Linked DNA regions of Homo sapiens: region 2 is linked to region 1. The links come from fine-mapping of genetic effects on gene expression. Tissue or cell type: whole blood. Region 1 holds a variant in brackets; the other region holds the start of a gene. All regions are shown on one strand. Distances are between the middles of the regions.

The links. PIP is the estimated chance that this variant, and not a neighbour inherited with it, causes the effect.
Region 2: it holds the start of SLC48A1, and the variant in region 1 is fine-mapped to the expression of SLC48A1 in whole blood (TOPMed, PIP above 0.99).

The regions. Positions count from the first base shown.
Region 1 is chr12:47,802,428-47,810,684 of GRCh38, reverse strand. All of the region lies in intron 1 of HDAC7 (histone deacetylase 7), which reads left to right. It overlaps LOC124902926 (a long non-coding RNA gene), which reads right to left. Exons shown (of 2, transcript XR_007063290.1): 1 at 8,026-8,257; 2 at 5,052-5,410. Among named protein-coding and RNA genes, the nearest start is that of HDAC7, 13 kb to the left of the region's middle. RefSeq lists an enhancer at 1,684-1,753. The variant T/C (reference allele first, on the strand shown) is at 4,462.
Region 2 is chr12:47,769,660-47,777,659 of GRCh38, reverse strand. SLC48A1 (solute carrier family 48 member 1) reads right to left here and starts at 4,422. Exons shown (of 3, transcript NM_017842.3): 1 at 4,220-4,422. The coding sequence starts at 4,355. RefSeq lists enhancers at 3,190-3,694, 3,695-4,201 and a silencer at 3,947-4,556.

The DNA.
Region 1 (8,257 bases):
TCCTCTGTGGCAGCCCTGGGAGGTTTGCTTGTTTAGTTATACCCTGCTGGAGGCAGCTAACAGGAAACACTGTAAAGTGTTTAAATGGTACACTTTAAAATGGTAAAATGTACATTTAAAAAGGAAGGGAAATAGAAGATGAAAAAGGAATTGAGGATGGCAGGGGTGGAACACAGCACACTTTGTGGGAACAGGCTGGCATTGGGAGCATACCCTAGGGCCTCACTGTGTCTTGCATCCCCTTGTCCCCTTGGTGGTCTCACCTCAGCCACTACTAGGAGGCAGGCTGAGTAAGCAGTCCACGCCAGTGTACCGATGCTAAGCTTAGGTTCTGGAGTCCCAGCAGCTCCACATACCATCTGTGTGACCTCAGCAAGTTTCTGAACCTCTCTTAGCCTTAGTTTCCTCATTTGCAAAATGAGAATAATAACAGTATATAGGCCGGGCGCAGTGGTTCACGCCTGTAATCCCAGCACTTTGGGAGGCCAGGGTGGGTGGATTCAGTGAGTTCAGGAGTTTGAGACCAGCCTGGCCAACATAGTGAAACACCGTCTCTACCAAAATACAAAAATTAGCTGGGCATGGTGGCTTGCACCTGTAATCCCAGCTACTTGGGAGGCTGAGGCAGGAGAATCACTTGAATCCGGGAGGCAGAGGTTGCAGTCAGCTGAGATTGTGCCACTGCACTCCAGTCTGGGTGACAGAGTGAAATTCTGTCTCAAAAACAAAACAAAACAAACAAACAAAAAAACAGTATCTGCCTTACAGAGTTGTGAGGACTACTTGCAATAGTACAATTAAAATGTTTAGTGGGGGCCTGGTGTGGTGGCTCAGGCCTGTAATCCCAGTACTTTGGGAGGCAGAGGTGGGCGGATCACTTGAGGCTGGGAGTTCGAGACCAGACTAATCAACAGGGTGAAACCCCGTCTCTACTAAATATACAAAAATTAGCCAGGCATGTTGGCGCACGCCTGTAATCCCAGCTACTTAGGAGGCTGAGGCAGGAGAATCACTTGAACCCGGGAGGCAGAGGTTGAAGTGAGCCAAGATCGTGCCACTGTACTCCAGCCTGGGTGACAGAGTGGGACTCCATCTCAAAATAAATAAATAAATAAAAATCGCTTAGTGGGAGGATGTTGCCCTCCCCCCGCCAAAAATGCCTAGGATAATAGCCAGCACACAGTAAGCATTAACACATGATTGTTGATCATTATTAATATTATTAATTAATTAAAATAATATAACTATTGTTGATATTGTAACTTAAACATTTCCCTGGCAGTCTTGGGAATGGGCTGCGTGGCCTTGTGGGTGGCACAGGTGAGAAGAGTGAGGAAGGCACATCTCGCTCGGCCTGCAGCTGGGAGAGGCAGAACCAGTGGGCAAAGCAGGAGTAGGGTACACAGAGGGGCAGGGTCTGCATGAGGAGGGCCCAGGAGCTGGGGTGACAAGGAGAGCAAGGGAATGAGTGTGACACCTCAGAGGGGAGAAGGAGCCGCCCCTAGAGGCAGCCTGGGGCGGTGACTGTGCTTCCTGTTGGGGCAAACACTGGCCCTTGAGAAAGACTGGCTCACACTGGCTGCTAAAGGAGCAACTGGTCTAAGTGGGGCACCAGAGGGGTAAAGGCGAAGGGGAGAGATGAAGGCAGAAACTGGCCGACTTATCCCCATGTTACAGATAGGGCCTCAAATCTTGCCTGCTCAGGATGTTTTGCTTATGATAGGAAAGATGGTAGTTAGACATCATGGTGAACTTCCTATCTCAGGGACTGGAGATACTGGAGCAGAGGAGTGAGGATGAATGTGGAACTTATGTCTTTGAGGGCTTTTTGGAACTGAGAAATCTTAGGGTAGTGTGGACTAGGGGAGCCCACTGGCTCAGGAATTCCCTAAGTGGGCAGAGCAGTGCAGGGGCAGGCCAGGCTATAAGCTGAAGGCCATGGGTAATAGGAAGTAGATGCAGGCCCTCCAGGCCTGCCACCGCAGGAAGTAGCTATGCCCTCCCCTTCACAATGGACTTGCAGGGAAGGCTGAGTGGTGGCCCGAGAGGTCCCGGGAGTTGGACAGGGCTGGGAGGACCCCTGTTTTTCTCTGTCAGAGGACAGCAAGGGTCTCCAGAGAGTGCCAGACCCAGAAACCGACAGCCATACGCAACTCAGAATGGCCCAGCTCCCCGGCCTCAGGTTCTGCCAGGTCTTCATCCTTGAGGAGAGGCCACAGGGTGGAGCTGGGGATCTGGGGTGGGGGACAAAGAACCAGGGAGGATGCTTTCCCACCCCCAGGGAGCTCAAGCCGCTGCTGCCATGGTTACATCTGCTTCCTGTTTGATTCATCTCAAACAGCAGAAGTGGAGGTGGGGTGGGGGGGCGACACTGGCTCCCAGCTCAGGCCACTGCTGCGTGGGGCTGTTTACAACAGCCGCATGTGGGATTCCCAGAAAGAGACTCCAAACCGGACATCCTGCGGCTGCAAAATACCCAGGTGTCAAGAGCTAAAAATAGCTGCCTCAGGGCCCCAGCTGCCCTGAGGTGGCGGAGAAAGAGGCATGCTCACTGTTGCCACCCTTACATCCAGCCTCCTGTTTGGTGTGCAGGAGCTTCTCTGTCCTCTTGCCTCGGACTGATGGAGGCCTTCGTCTGGGTAGGCAGACATCCCGGCTGGCTCACCTGGCAGCTGAGCCTCTGCCCTGATGGGCAGCTGGCTCCTCTGCCTATACAGAGAAATGGTGCAGCTTGCTTTGGGACGCTAATGAGAGAGTCCTAGAGGGACTTGGGAGCTTCTAGAGAAGGGATATGGCAGGGCACTGAGAGCAGGGGAGTTGGAGCTGAGGGTCCTCTAAGACCCCAACCCATTGCCAGCCCCCTGTTTCCAGCACACAGTCCCAAATCATTGCTTGGTTTCTACAAAGTCAACAGTTGCTCCAAATGATTCTTTGAGATTGTCTTCATGGGCACCCAAAGATGACATAGCTTCTGCCCTCTCACCTGCGCAGGGCTGGGGATTGCTGCTGGCACGGGTCTCTGTGGGGCTGTGTGATTTTTTTTTTCCATCTTTCTGCATGCCCATCTAGGTCCTGCATGTGTCCTTTGCTGGCTGGCCTGTGGCGAATGGGAATGCTGGGGAGGAGGGGTGGAGTGTATTGGTTGAGAGCGTGGATTCTGAAGCCCAATTGCCTGGGCTCAAGTCCCAGCTCAACCTCTGCCACTTGTCTGTGACCTCAGACAAGTTATCTAATACTGCTGGGCCTCAGCGTACTCATTTATCTAATGGGGATAAAACAGTAAATACCTCATAGGTTTGTCATGTGGACTAGATAAGTTAGCAAATGTAGGGTACTTAGAACAACTCCTGGCACATAATAAGGTGTTCGCTTACAAAAGTTCAGGTGGAAGAGAAAGGGAAGAGAGCATAGTTGGGAGAGGCTGGGGATAAGAGATAGGGCAGGGGGCTGGGCACGGTGGCTCACGCCTGTAATCCTAACACTTTGGGAAGCCGAGGCAGGCAAATCACCTGAGGACAGGGGTTCGAGACCAGCCTGGCCAACATGGCAAAACACCGTCTCTACTAAAAATACAAAAATTAGCTGGGCTTGGTGGCTTATGCCTGTAGTCCCAGCTACTTGGGAGGCTGAGGGAGGAGAATCACTTGAATCCAGGAGGCAGAGTTTGCAGTTAGCTGAGATTGTGCCACTGCACTCCAGCCTGGGTGACAGAGCGAGACTCCATCTCAAAAAAAAAAAAGAGAGAGAGAGAGAGATGGGGCAGGGGCATGCATTCAGGAGAAAATGGTCTGTGGTAGAGGAGGGAGGAGAGTTGGGAGCAGACACTGAAACGCTAATGCCAGGAAGGAGGCTGCAGACAAGTACAGGAGGCAAACTAATACTCGCTACCACAAGGGAGCACCCACCATGTGCTGGGTGCATCACAGACAGCATTGCTAATCTCAGGTGACCTCTTTGAAGTAGGTATTCTTTTTGTTTGTTTTTGTTTTTGTTTTTGAGACGGAGTCTTGCTCTGTCGCCCAGGCTGGAGTGCAGTGGTGCAATCTCAGCTCACTGCAGCCTCCGCCTCCTGGGTTCAAGCGATTCTTGTGCCTCAGCCTCCCAAGTAGCTGGACTACATGCTCCCCGCCACCATGCCTGACTAATTTTTGTATTTTTGTTAGAGATGGGATTTCACCATGTCGGCCAAGCTGGTCTCGAACTCCTGACCTCAAGTAATCTGCCCGCCTTGGCCAGGGCAGAACTTCCCCAAAGTTCTGGGATTATAGGCGTGAGCCACCTCGCCCAGCCTGAAGTAGGTATTCTTATCTCCTGATTACAGGTGGGGCAGCTTAAGCAGGTTAAATTGTGTTTCTGGCTTGCTTTGCCAGTCACCGAGGGAGTCGGGGCTTAAACCCAGGCCCATCTGACCGCAAAGCCAATGTCCTGTGTGCTTTAGACCTTCAATTCCCTCACAGTTTG[T/C]GGCCTGCCAGACTTCATGTGGCAGGGGCTTCCAGCCCACTCTCAGCTCCCTGCTGGGTTCTGGATAAATCTGAGCAAGAAGCATTCAGTGCCAATCAATGAGCAGTATAGAGAATTTCTGGAAGGGAGACACAAGAAGCTGTTAGAAAGGGCGGCTTCCAGGGAAGTTCTAGGGAGTCTGGGATGAATGAGAAACTTATCCTAACAACTTTTGGGCTCTCTGAATTTTTTTTAGTATCTGCAAGTATTGTACTTGTTCAAATATGTTTAAGGCTGCAGGCTGTATTCTAAACTCCTTGAAAGTGAGAACCAGGTTTCACTCATATTTCCATCTTTTCAACCCCTAGATCAGTGACTTCCCAGGGAAGTAGTACCTGCATTTGGGGTTGACCTTTGGGTTTCCCCTGTACTGGTCTGGCCTGGCCTGGCTGGACCACTGGCTGGCTGGGTGGCTGTGACCTAGCCCCTTCTTTCTCTTTGCTCCTCTGTCAAATGAGAGTGTTGGTCTGAACGATCTCTAAAGCCTGGAAGAGGAGCAGATCCTCTGTGCTCAGCCCCCACTCTGTGTCAGGGAGGCCTGGCAACCACAGTGTTCTTTCTCCTGTTTATTTGTTCTTGGATCTTCCTGAAGCCATTTCACCACCAGCCTTCATCTTCTCTGCCAGCCCCATGGAGACTCAAGCTTTTTCCAGCCTATGTCAGGGAAGGAGAACCAGAGACAGCAACCTCGGGTGTGAAGGGAGTCAGCTCTGAACCCAGGACTATGGCCTTCTGCCACTGCCTGCTTTCCTCTTGCTGCTGGGGCCTAGGTCTTCTTGCTGCTGCTTCCTTTTCCGCTAATCAAGAGTCCAGGGAGGTGGGAACAGCCTCAACAAAGACTTTGAAGATGAGCGGGGAGGATCGCTTGAGCCCAGGAGCCCAGCCTGGGCAACAGGGGAAGACTTCGTCTCTACAAAAAAAAAAACAACAAAACAAAACAAAAAAAATTTAGCCAGGCATCGTGGTGCATACTGTAGTCCCAGCTACTCTGGAGGCTGAGGCAGGAGAATTGCCTGAGCCCAGGAGGTCAACGCTGCAGTGAGCCATGTTCACATCACTGCACTCCAGCCTGGGCATCAGAACAAGACCGTACCTCAAAAAAAAAAAAAAATTAAGAAAAGACACTGGAGGCATCGGGAGGGGGGCGTTCTAGGTGGCAGTGCTCCTGGGGAAGCCTTTTGTCCCACTGAAGACATGAAGCTCCTGGGAGAGCAGGTGGTCGGCAAGGCTCAGGTTTTCATCCACCTTTTGCAGATCTAGGAGGCAAAGTCATACCTGCTGGGGAGGGAGGACCAAGACTGGGGCCTGAGGCAATAAGGTAGGAGCAGTAGGGAGGTCAGTTTGTTCCAGGTGCTTAGAATTGTGTTTGTGTTTACTCTGGAGGTTGCTGAGGGCTGGGGTGCACCTATTGGAACAGGGGCTCCATAGGTTTCTGGGTAAAATCAGGTGTTCTGGTTTAAGAAGGTGACTTGGTAGGCCCACATGCCCCAGTGCCAAGTAAACTGTTCTTAAGTCTGACTGCAGTTGCCTCCAAAGAAGATAGAAAAGGGGAGTAGCCAGGATTCCAAAAAGAAGAGCTCTCCAACCTGGCAAAGAGCCCTGTGCTAGACAGTATTCCTGGTACCTTGGGTCCATTTACTTCTCTTTTTTTTTTTTTTTTCAGGCTGACCCCAAATTAGTAGTAACAGCCCTCGGAGAGAGGCAGTGATGGGAAAAGAGGTCCCACACTCAAGCCAGAACTGGGAGGCAGGATGTTCATGCTCTGGCTTCAGTTCAGCTACTGACGGGGTGCCAGTAGATACCTTTCCTCTCTCTAGGACACAAAGAGAGCTGTTCCTGGGTCTTAATCTCTGTCGCTCTGCGCTCTTCTGAACTTGATGGCCCTCAGCACGGGGCCAGGGAGCGGGGGAAAAGCAGAACTTTTTCCAGGAATTGCTATTGGAAGCAGCCCCGTTGCCAACACGCATGCACACATGCACACAGCTTTTCTGGACAGACCTTATATTATGGATTATCACCACAAAACATCCCTTTGGGGCCTGGTAGCCCACACCACAGAATTCAGGGTCATTAATTTTTCTCCTATCCAGAGAGTGCATGGTGTCCGGAATCTGTGGTTACCAGGGGAGCAAGGCACAGAGAACCTGGCTCTGCTCCCAAGCATGAATGCTGCTGACCAGCCCCTGGGTAGGGACTGGGGAGGTGGGACAGAATTCCCAGGAGGCAGGGGACTCAGCCTGACACAGTCTCTGGGAGTGCACCCTGGAGCCCAGTCCAGAAACCTCTGGGAGGACCAGGTCCTGCAGAAGAAAGAAGAGGTACTAAGAAGGCCTGGGATTGGGGGTTACCATGTCGTGGGGAGGGGAGTTTGCCTCTGAGGCCCACCACCTTGAGAAATATGCATGCTGTGTCTCAGGCAGGTTGTCAGGAGAGAGTCATTGTATTTGATTTGTCAGCTACTAACAGAGCCTGCCACGTGCCCTGCGAGGTGTTTGGTGCAGATGGGCATGGCTTCCACAGGGCACCACAGAGATCATGATGAATGAAGTGTCAAGGTGGTAGACACAGAGCGAGTGCTGTGGAAAAGGAAGAGGGGAGAGGTCAGGGAGAGCCTCCCAAGGAGATGGACTTGGGCTGGACCTCAGAGGATGGGCAGAATTTAAATAGGTAGAGCAGCATTTTCGGACCGAACTTTGTTACCCAAAGCATGGGCTGGTTTGAGGGGCAGTCGGTGGGAGTCTCCCTGTGCCCAGGCTGCCCCCTCCCCCAGCAGCGCCTGCCTGCAGGAAGTTCTCATTTCTCGGCTCTGAAGAGGAACTGTGGCTGCCTCTGAGACACAGACCCAAAGGAGCACCCCGGCAGTTTCTCAAAAAATATCCCTTCTGCCCCAAGTCTGGCCAGCAGAGCGCTTCTGTGTCCACCCAGTACCCCGTCCAGGCAGCCTCTGGGTCTCCTGGCCTCCTGTCCCCTTGACCCTGAACTGGACAGCAAGAGGGAAAGGTGTCTGTCCTGGACAGGTGGCCTCAGGACTCATCTCTGTCTTCTCCAACCCCAGCTGGCCTCCATGTCCCCTGGGGGCTTTCTGCTGCTGACCAGCTTGGGCCCTACTATAGGTTTTCTTGCTGGGCTTAGGAGCCTGAGAGAGGTAGCCATTTCCAAAAGAAAAGATTTCTATCTCAGATTATCTGGGAAAGAGGCTGAGTAGGTCCCTTCTCTGAGGAAACAGGCAGCAGGACATAGGATGGGGCAGTGGGAGGAAAAGGGTCTGCACTATGGGGTCCTTGGGCTGTGCACTCCTGACCTTATCACTTCACAGTTCCCACCAGATCTGACTTGACCTCCGGGCCATGACCCAGTCCCTCCCCCACTCTGGAAACCTCTGTGTCCCCTCCTGCTCCTTTCACTCCCACCTGGGAGGCTCTGAGCAGGCCAGGGTCCCTCTCTCCAGGCCTGCTCCTCCCTTTCTCCTCCTGTCCCCCCAGCCATCCCCCCAGCCAGGCTCTCCCACCTCTGGCCCCACCTCACCTCTTGGCCTTCTTCTTTCCCTCGGGCGATGGGAGCCTGGTTTGGCTGCCCAGGGAAGATTGTATCTGACCACAGGAGGGAGGGCTGAGGGCACTGCTGGGTGAGCTGAGGCCTCCTTAGGTTCTTGCTGTAGTCTGAGTTCAAGTCATTTAGAATGAGTGACTTGAGGAAGAGGGAGCTGGGAGCCCTTTTCACCAGCAGGGGGACTGGAGGAGTCGAATGGGGTGGGGTC
Region 2 (8,000 bases), 33 kb after region 1:
AAGGCAGGAGGAAGCTTGTCACTGTGGAGCTATGCTCTGGTTACCAGCTCAGAGGCTGTCCCAGTTTGGCTGTCCCCAGACAGTCCAGTGAGGAACAAAAACCCATGAGACTCCAAGCCAAGAAACCAGGAGCCTGGCACTGCTGTGTCCCAAAGCCTTGGTGTTTCCACATCTAAAAATGGGTGGGCCCAGGGGTCCTGCCAGTTTAGGTAACTGGGCCCAGGGTTCTACCCTAGTGAGGGTGAAGGCCTACCAAGCCTACAGCTTCCCTCAGCCCCTGCCACCGTTTGACCCCCTGAACACTCTCCCAGCTTTGCCCCTGCCCACCTCCACTCTTCCTCAGGGGGTGGGGGCCTGGAATGTGGGTCCCCCTCCTACTGAGATCAGGGTGGGCCAGGACAAGCATCTGTTCCTCCCCACCTAGTCTGGATGCTGGAGTGGGCCAGAGGTGGACAGGACAATCATCCTGCAGCTTCCTCTTACCTCCTACAAGATCTGGATTTTTATACCAGCCACCTTTCACAGAAGTCCCTCCCACTCCTCACATGTGTCCCATGTTTTCATTTGAGGGAGCTGTTTGGTTTATAAAGGGCCCTGGGAACAAGGGGTGTTGTCACTGAGCACACTCAAGGAGCAGTCTGATGGGCACCTGTCTGGAACAGGTCCCCTCGCCCTCTGTCTCCTCGTGCCACAGAGGGGTTGGGGAAGTTGAGCTCTAAGATCCTTTCCCACTCAAAGATTCTAGAAGCCAGCTTGGGAGAAAAATAAGGTCAGAACAATTCCTCTGTGACTCAGCAGTTTCTGGGTTAGGAAATGCTGAAATAGGGGCCTGTGAAGATGCCATCTCTTAGTCCACTGGCCACGATCCAGTGGTTCCCCAAAACTCCCACCCCCATGTACATGCACATACCAAAGAGGGCTGAGGGCAGGAGGGAGAGGAAGACAGCCATTTGGGGGCGTTTTGGGCCCTGTTCTTTGTTAACAACAGGCATGGTTTACCCACCTCTCACCTTCCCTCAACCTTGCTCCAGGCCCTGCACAGAGGCCTCCCCTCCAGATAAACACACATCAAGTGTGGAGGCAGGCCTGCTGCCCACGCCCTGGCTCCCACCACCCTCCTGGGAAGGGAGCTCTCCACCAGCCCTACCCAAGGGGGTCACTGAAGGAGATGGAGCCCCTCACTGGTCCCCTCCCACACATCAGGCAGGAGGCAATGTATCTCCCTAATACCCTTCCCTGGCACACTTGGGGACTCTAGGAAGCCTGGTTTATAAAACTCGGGGTGGAATGGACAGGTCCCCAATCCCACCTGGCTGCAAGCCCACACCAGACCACACCGTTGCTCCATCCTACCTGTTTCAAGGAGCAGAGCCCCTGCTTAGCCATGTGAGCTTATTGGCTCACAGCCGATAAGCTAAGGGTAAGGAAGGCATAGGGTAGGGCGGTGAAAGCATCCCCAGTGGCTGGGCTGGAGGTGAGGAGACAGGAGACACCCGGGGGATCCCACAGGGTAAATGCAGACAAGAAGGACACTGGGCCTAGGTCAGGCCCCTCTATTCCTTCCTAGGAGGAAGACAGTCCTGGAGCCCCAGGGCTCTTGCTCACAGCTCACCTGGGAAAAACATAGAGCTGTTTAGACTTCAGGAGCAACTTTTCTTTTTCTCTTTCCTTGGTCTACTAAACCCAGAGCAAGAGTTTGTGTTTTCCCCCAGGACTCCCACAGCAAAGCCAGACCAGGTAGATCCAACCCACACCTGCCCGCCTCCCCAGGAAAGCCAGTCTTGCTTCTGCCACTGCCTTTCTCCAAAGCCACTTCTTCGAAGGTACCCATCAGGATGGGAGAGGGTATCCCCACCCGTGAACACTCTGCCCACCAGACCCAGGGGCTCCATGACTCTGCTCCAGAAACTGGCACATCCAATCAGTCCTTGCCTGGTCCAACACAGGAGAAGGAGCATGCTGGGGCTACCCTTGGGTGACTCAGCAGATTCTGAGCTATAAAACGCTGAGTCAGAAGTAGGGTGCTCACACGTTAGTTAATCTGCTGACACTTTACCCCCAAAAGAGGAAGAAGGTTGACTGGCCACAGACCCTCTGAGAACTCACTCATGGTGGGGAAGGTCGGAGGCCCAGGCTTGGCAACCCCTCTCCCTGCCACCATCCACCACCACCACTACCAAGCAGTTTTGGCTCTTCCACAGCCACTGTCAAAGATCAGACCATCAGGGAGATACCAGGACCCTACTCCAGCTGGCTGCTGCCCTAGCGAGCTGCTGCCCTAGCGAGCTGCTGCCCTAGCGCCTCTCTCTGAAGGCAGCTCCACAGCTGGCCTGCCTCATAGGCCAAGGGAAGCCTGTGGGGAGGGAGAGAGGGCAGAGTTGGGTCGGAAGAAAACCCCAGGCAACTCCCTAGAGTATAAGAAAGAAGGCCTTTTCCACAGCCCTCTAGGAGGCAGCTGGAGACTCAGGGAGTGGGCAGCACTGCAAGATTTCAGATCTGGAGGGAAGTCAGATGTCTTTTGGGGACATCTCCTCCCACTCCTAATAGATGAGGAAACTGTGGCCCAGGATAGGGTCAAACGGCCAGGTAGGGTTCACCTCCACTTGTACCAGGCCAGACTCAACACAACCAGCTGAGATCCCAGGCTGGCCCTCCCTGCTCATCCTTCTCTTGCCTTCGGTCTTCGCAATGCAATCATAGGGCTCTGACGCCGCCTTCCAGAGGGGAAAGCAACAGGGCCAATAGGAAACAAAAAAGTGGCAGGGAGAAGTGAACCTTGACAAACATGGAGGGTGGCGGGGTGCAGTGGGGAAAGGAACTAGGGCTCTGTAGATAACGCGCAGAGATGGGCCAGTTGTCCTCAGGATCCCACAGGTGGTGAGGCAGCTGGGCAGGCAGAGAACACCCTAGCCAGGGTGCCCATCCCCCCTTCTTGGTGACCCAGTGCTTTGTTGGCATTGTGTAGGGTGGGGCCCTGTATGCCCCTCTTCTAAGGCATTAACCCCACCTCATGCTGCGACTCTACCCAGGGATGGCACTCAGCACTCCCTGTGGCAGTGAGTAAATTAGTTATTTTTAGTTATTCCATTTAGGGTTCTTTTGGCCGAGGATTTTAGTAATGGAATATAATCATCATATGTAAAAGTATTATACGTATTTTCTTCCCAAAGTCCTTTCCCACACATATTATTTCATGTAGCTGTGTAATCCCGGGTAAGCAATTTATTTAACTTCAGGCCTCAGTTTCCTTATCTGTAAAATGGACATAATCGTAAGGCCTACTTCATGAGACTAATGTAAGGATTAAATGAAATAAGGGAAGCAGGTTGCTTAACATAGTGCCTGACACATAGAAAGCATTTTTTAAAATGTTAGAAAGTAGAGATAATATTTTTCATCTTCATACCAATTCTATGGCGCAGAGAGGTTAAACTGCGAGCCCAAATGTGCACAACAAGGAGCACTGGTCAGCCCAGAGCCCCCATCAGCGCACCGATGCTTCCCCTTCCCTCCCAGAAGCACAGAAAGGGCGGCTGGCCTGCAGGATTTGGCAGAGCTTGGCTGAGGAGCCACAGCAGACGGGTAGCAAAAAGGCACCAACATGGGTGGAAAGAGAATGTCCAGTTTCTATGAGATCCCTAACGCCGTCCTCCCTGTGGGTCTCAGCAGAGGGCTCTGCGGGGGAGCCCTCTGGAAGGAGGGAGATGGGCTTCCCCAGCCACCCCTAGCCCTCTTCCTTTCCCACTTCTTCCCTCTCTGCCCTCACCCAGCACCCAGGGAAGGGGCGCCTGGGGGGCAGGGGATCCCTCAGAACAACCGTGTGTGTGTGCGTGTGTGTGTGTGTGTGTGTTTGGGGATAGGAGGCGACCAGCGCCGCGGGCGCGCGGAGGGGACACTGTCGTGGGGCAACTGGGCGGAGGGCGACAGGCAGTGTGCCGTGACAGATAACCCGGGCGGCGCGGCAGGTCTGTGCAGCCGGCAGTGGCGGGCCGTCGGCACCCCCAGGTGGCGCCCGGGCGGGCATCGGGTCTCAGAGGCACCCAGGAATGCCCAGGAGCCCGGGCCCGCGTGGGGCCTGCCGCCGCCAACCGCTGTTTTCGAGTAAACACTCCACCCGCTCCGCGGGGAAGCGCCGCTCGCGGGGAGCGTCCTGGAGCAGCTGACGGCGCCCGCCCCGCAGCCGCGCACCCGCCCCGCGCCGCCCAGCGTCCCGGGGTACCTGCGAGCCCTCCCATGGCCGCGGTCCCCGGCTGTCGGTAGACCACCGTCCAGACGAGGAAGATGGAGAAGCCGGCCACGGAGCTGATGCCGGAGTAGGCGGCGCGGAGGCCGAGCTGCAGCCTGGACGGGGCCATGGGGCTGCGGCGCCGGGCGGGCCGAGGGCGAGCGCGGCCGAGAGTCACAGGTGCAGGGCCCGAAGCCGCCAGCCGGAGCCGCGGGAGCCGCCAGAGCAGCCGGCGCCCCGCGCTCCGCCCCCGGCCCGCCCCCAGCGCCGCCCGCACAGCGCCCTCCCCGGCCGGAGGCCGCCCGCGCCCGGAACCGCAGACGCCACCGCCGCTTTGCGAAGCTGCCGTGTCGTTTGGGGGAATGCTGCTAAAAAGGCGGATTCCTGGGCCCATCCCCAGACCCGCCGTGTCCGGATTGTTGGACCTTGGAAGGGACCGGAAATATGCCTTTATACGAGCGAACCGCGAGGATTAAAAATCTTTACCTCTGAGTACGATGCGTATTTTCGTTTAAAATTAAAATTAAAATTTCTTGTTAAAAATTAATAGGTAAAACTTAAGAAATATTAGAGTACGCTGTGAATAGAATTCCTTCCGCCCGTCCTTCTATCAACCAGGTTCCCTCCCACCATATCGCAGAGGATTTCTCCACACACTAAAGTCTGGGAACCCCTGCGACCATCACCTTCTGACTGCAAACATTCTATACATTCTATCCTCACGCACAGCTCCCCACAAATCCCTACTTTTTTTTTTTTAAACAGAGTCTCACTCTGTTGCCCGGGCAGGAGTACAGTGGCGCCATCATAGCTCCGCATCCTCCAACACCTGGATTCAAGCAATGCTCTCACCTCAGCCTTCCAAGCAGCCAGGACTACAGGTGTGTGCCACCACGCCTGGCTAGTATTTTTTGTTATTTATTTTTTGTAGAGATAGGGTCTCGCTATATTGCCCAGGCTGGTCCCCAACTCCTGGCCTCAAGCTGTCTTCCCACCTCGGCCTCCCAAAGCGCTGGAATTACAGGCTTGAGCCACTGCAACGGACCTCACCTTTCCTTTTATCAGCACAAGCCTTATCCTCCCAAACCCCTCACCCTGACCCTCGGGATCATACCATTGTAAGGAAGAGACAGATCTGTAGCAGGAGGGCACTGAGCTCCCACGTGAGCCCAGCTTCCGGCCGGGAGCTGGAGGGAAAATCCCAGCACAATAACAAGGGCTCTGCCACAGCACTAAGGATCCACATGGGGAGGCCCATCATATACCTGCACAAAACATAACCAATACCCCTTGCATTAGTTTTTTTTGTGTGTGTGCTGCCGTAACAAATTACCACAAATTTACTGATTTAAAATAACACAAACTTATTATTATTTTACAGTTCTGTAGGTCAGGAATCCAAATAATGGTCTCACTGGGCTAAAATCAAGGGGACATCAGGGTTGCCTTGTTTCTGGAGGCTCTAGGGGAAAATCAGTTTCCTTGACTTTTTTTTTTTTTTTGAGACGGAGTCTTGCTCTGTCACCCAGGCTAGAGTGCAGTGGCGTGATCTCAGCTCACTGCAATCTCTGCCTCCTGGGTTCAGGTGATTCTCCTGCATCAGCCTCCCGAGAAGTTGGGATTACACGCTTCCACCACCACACCCAGCTAATTTTTGTATTTTTAGTAAAGATGGGGTTTCACCATGTTGGCCAGGCTGGTCTCGAACTCCTGACCTCAGGTGATCCGCCCACCTCAGCCTCCCAAAGTGCTGGGATTACAGGTGTGAGCCCACCGTGCCCGGCCGCCTTTTCCAGCTTCTAGAGTGAGGCTACCCACATGCCTTAACTCCCTCTTCCTCCTTTTCCCTTCTAAGGACCCCTGTGATTGAGGGGATAGTCCAGGATAATCTCCCCATCGCAAGATCCTTAATTTTATCACATCAGCAAAATAAATCCCTTTGCCGTGGAAGGTGACATATTCATAGGTTCTGGGATGAGGACGTGGACATCTTTGGGGGCCATTATTATCCCACCCACCACACCCCCTCTGGAACATAAACTTCATGAGCAGGGACAGTGCCAGTTTTGTTCACATCAACATCTAAAAGCATGTCTGGCATATAATGACCCCTTAATAAATGTTTGTTGAATAGGTGAGTGTGAGTGAATGAAGGTAAGAATAAAATAAAAACAAAAGCAATTATACACAAGGAATCTAGACAGGGTGTGCTTAACTGCCAAACAAGGGATGTAAACCAGTGTTAAGCACATTTGCCTCACTCTAGAATAATCTGGGAGCTTCTTTAAAAATAAAAAAATAAACCCAGCCCCACCCCTGCCTATTAAATTTTGAATCTTGGAGTGTGTATTTTAATGAGAAGTGATGTCAAGGCTGTGAGCTCAGCAGCAGCCCTCCTTTAGGAGCTGCCGGTGGAGAGTGAGTGCTGGTCCTGTGGAGGAGGGAGCAAGCCCCGTGGTCCGGAGTGCATTTCCATGGATGGCTTCAGAGCTGGCCAGGATGGACAGTACTCCAGGCAGTGGGAACCGCACGTGTGATGGCGCAGAGGGAAGAAATAAAGCGGCCGCTTTGGGAAACTGTAAGTCGTTTGTGGCTGGAATGTCAAGTTTGAAGGTAGAGTAGCGGGTTTGGAGATTAGAAAGGTTCTGAACATAAAGGGCCTTGCATGCTCTGTTAAGAAGGCTGTCCCCCTCCCCTTGGGGCTGGGGGAGAAAACTCACAATTCTGTGTTTTAGAACTATGGCCAGAGTAATAGAGTGAAGGCGAACTGCCTGTGAAACACTAGAAGCAGAGAGATGAGTTGGACAAATTTCACCCCACAGTGCTTTAATTACCAGGTCTTTAAAATGGAGACTGCAGTAACACCTACTTCAAAGTGTTGTGATGAGGAGTGCCTGGAAGAGTGCCTAGCACATGGTAGATACTCAATAAATGTCAGGAAGTAGAATTAGTAGCAGCAGAAGGCTGCCATGGCAAGAGAGGATGAGGGGCTTCAGAGCTGGTCCAGGCAGAAGCAGAGAGAATGGAAGAGACGAAACTGCTTCAAGAGCTATTTCAGCTATCTGAACCTAAAGGTCAGGGGAGAATTCATTAGCTGAGCAGACAGAAGGAGGAGAGCAAAAATATTATGAGTGGACATATTAGGAGTATGGGAGAGCAGTGAGCAAGCTTGCTGTGCTGGAAAGTGAGATTGCGCAAGAAAAGAAAGAGAAATAATTATGTAACAGTAGTACTAGACCAGGTTGTACAAGGCTAAGGCCAGGCTTAAACATTTTTTAAATTGTGGAAACAATGAAGAGCTATTGCAGAGCATTAGACTCAGGTGGGGTCAGAGGCCTAGCTTCACCATTTGCTGTGACCCTGGGCAAGTGCCCCTAACTCACAGATGTCCAATCCAATTGACTTTCTGCCTGGAAGAAAATATTCCATATCTGCACCCTCCATAATGGTGGCCACTAATCACAGGTGGCTATTGAATACTTGATATGTGACTAGTGTGACTGAAGAACTGAATTTTTAATTGTATTTAATTTAAATTAATTTAAATTTAATGTATTTAAGTTTAGTGTATTTAATTTAAATTAATTTAAATTTAATTTAATTAATTTAAGTAGCTGCACATGACTAGTGGCTACTGTGTTAGCACAGCTAGACCCAGGACTCCTGTCCCTCCATCTGTACACAGGGAATGATGATGAAACATCACAGGCTTGTTACAAAGATCGAGATATATTGAGATAATACACTCAAAGTGCTCAACACAGTAATTCAACAA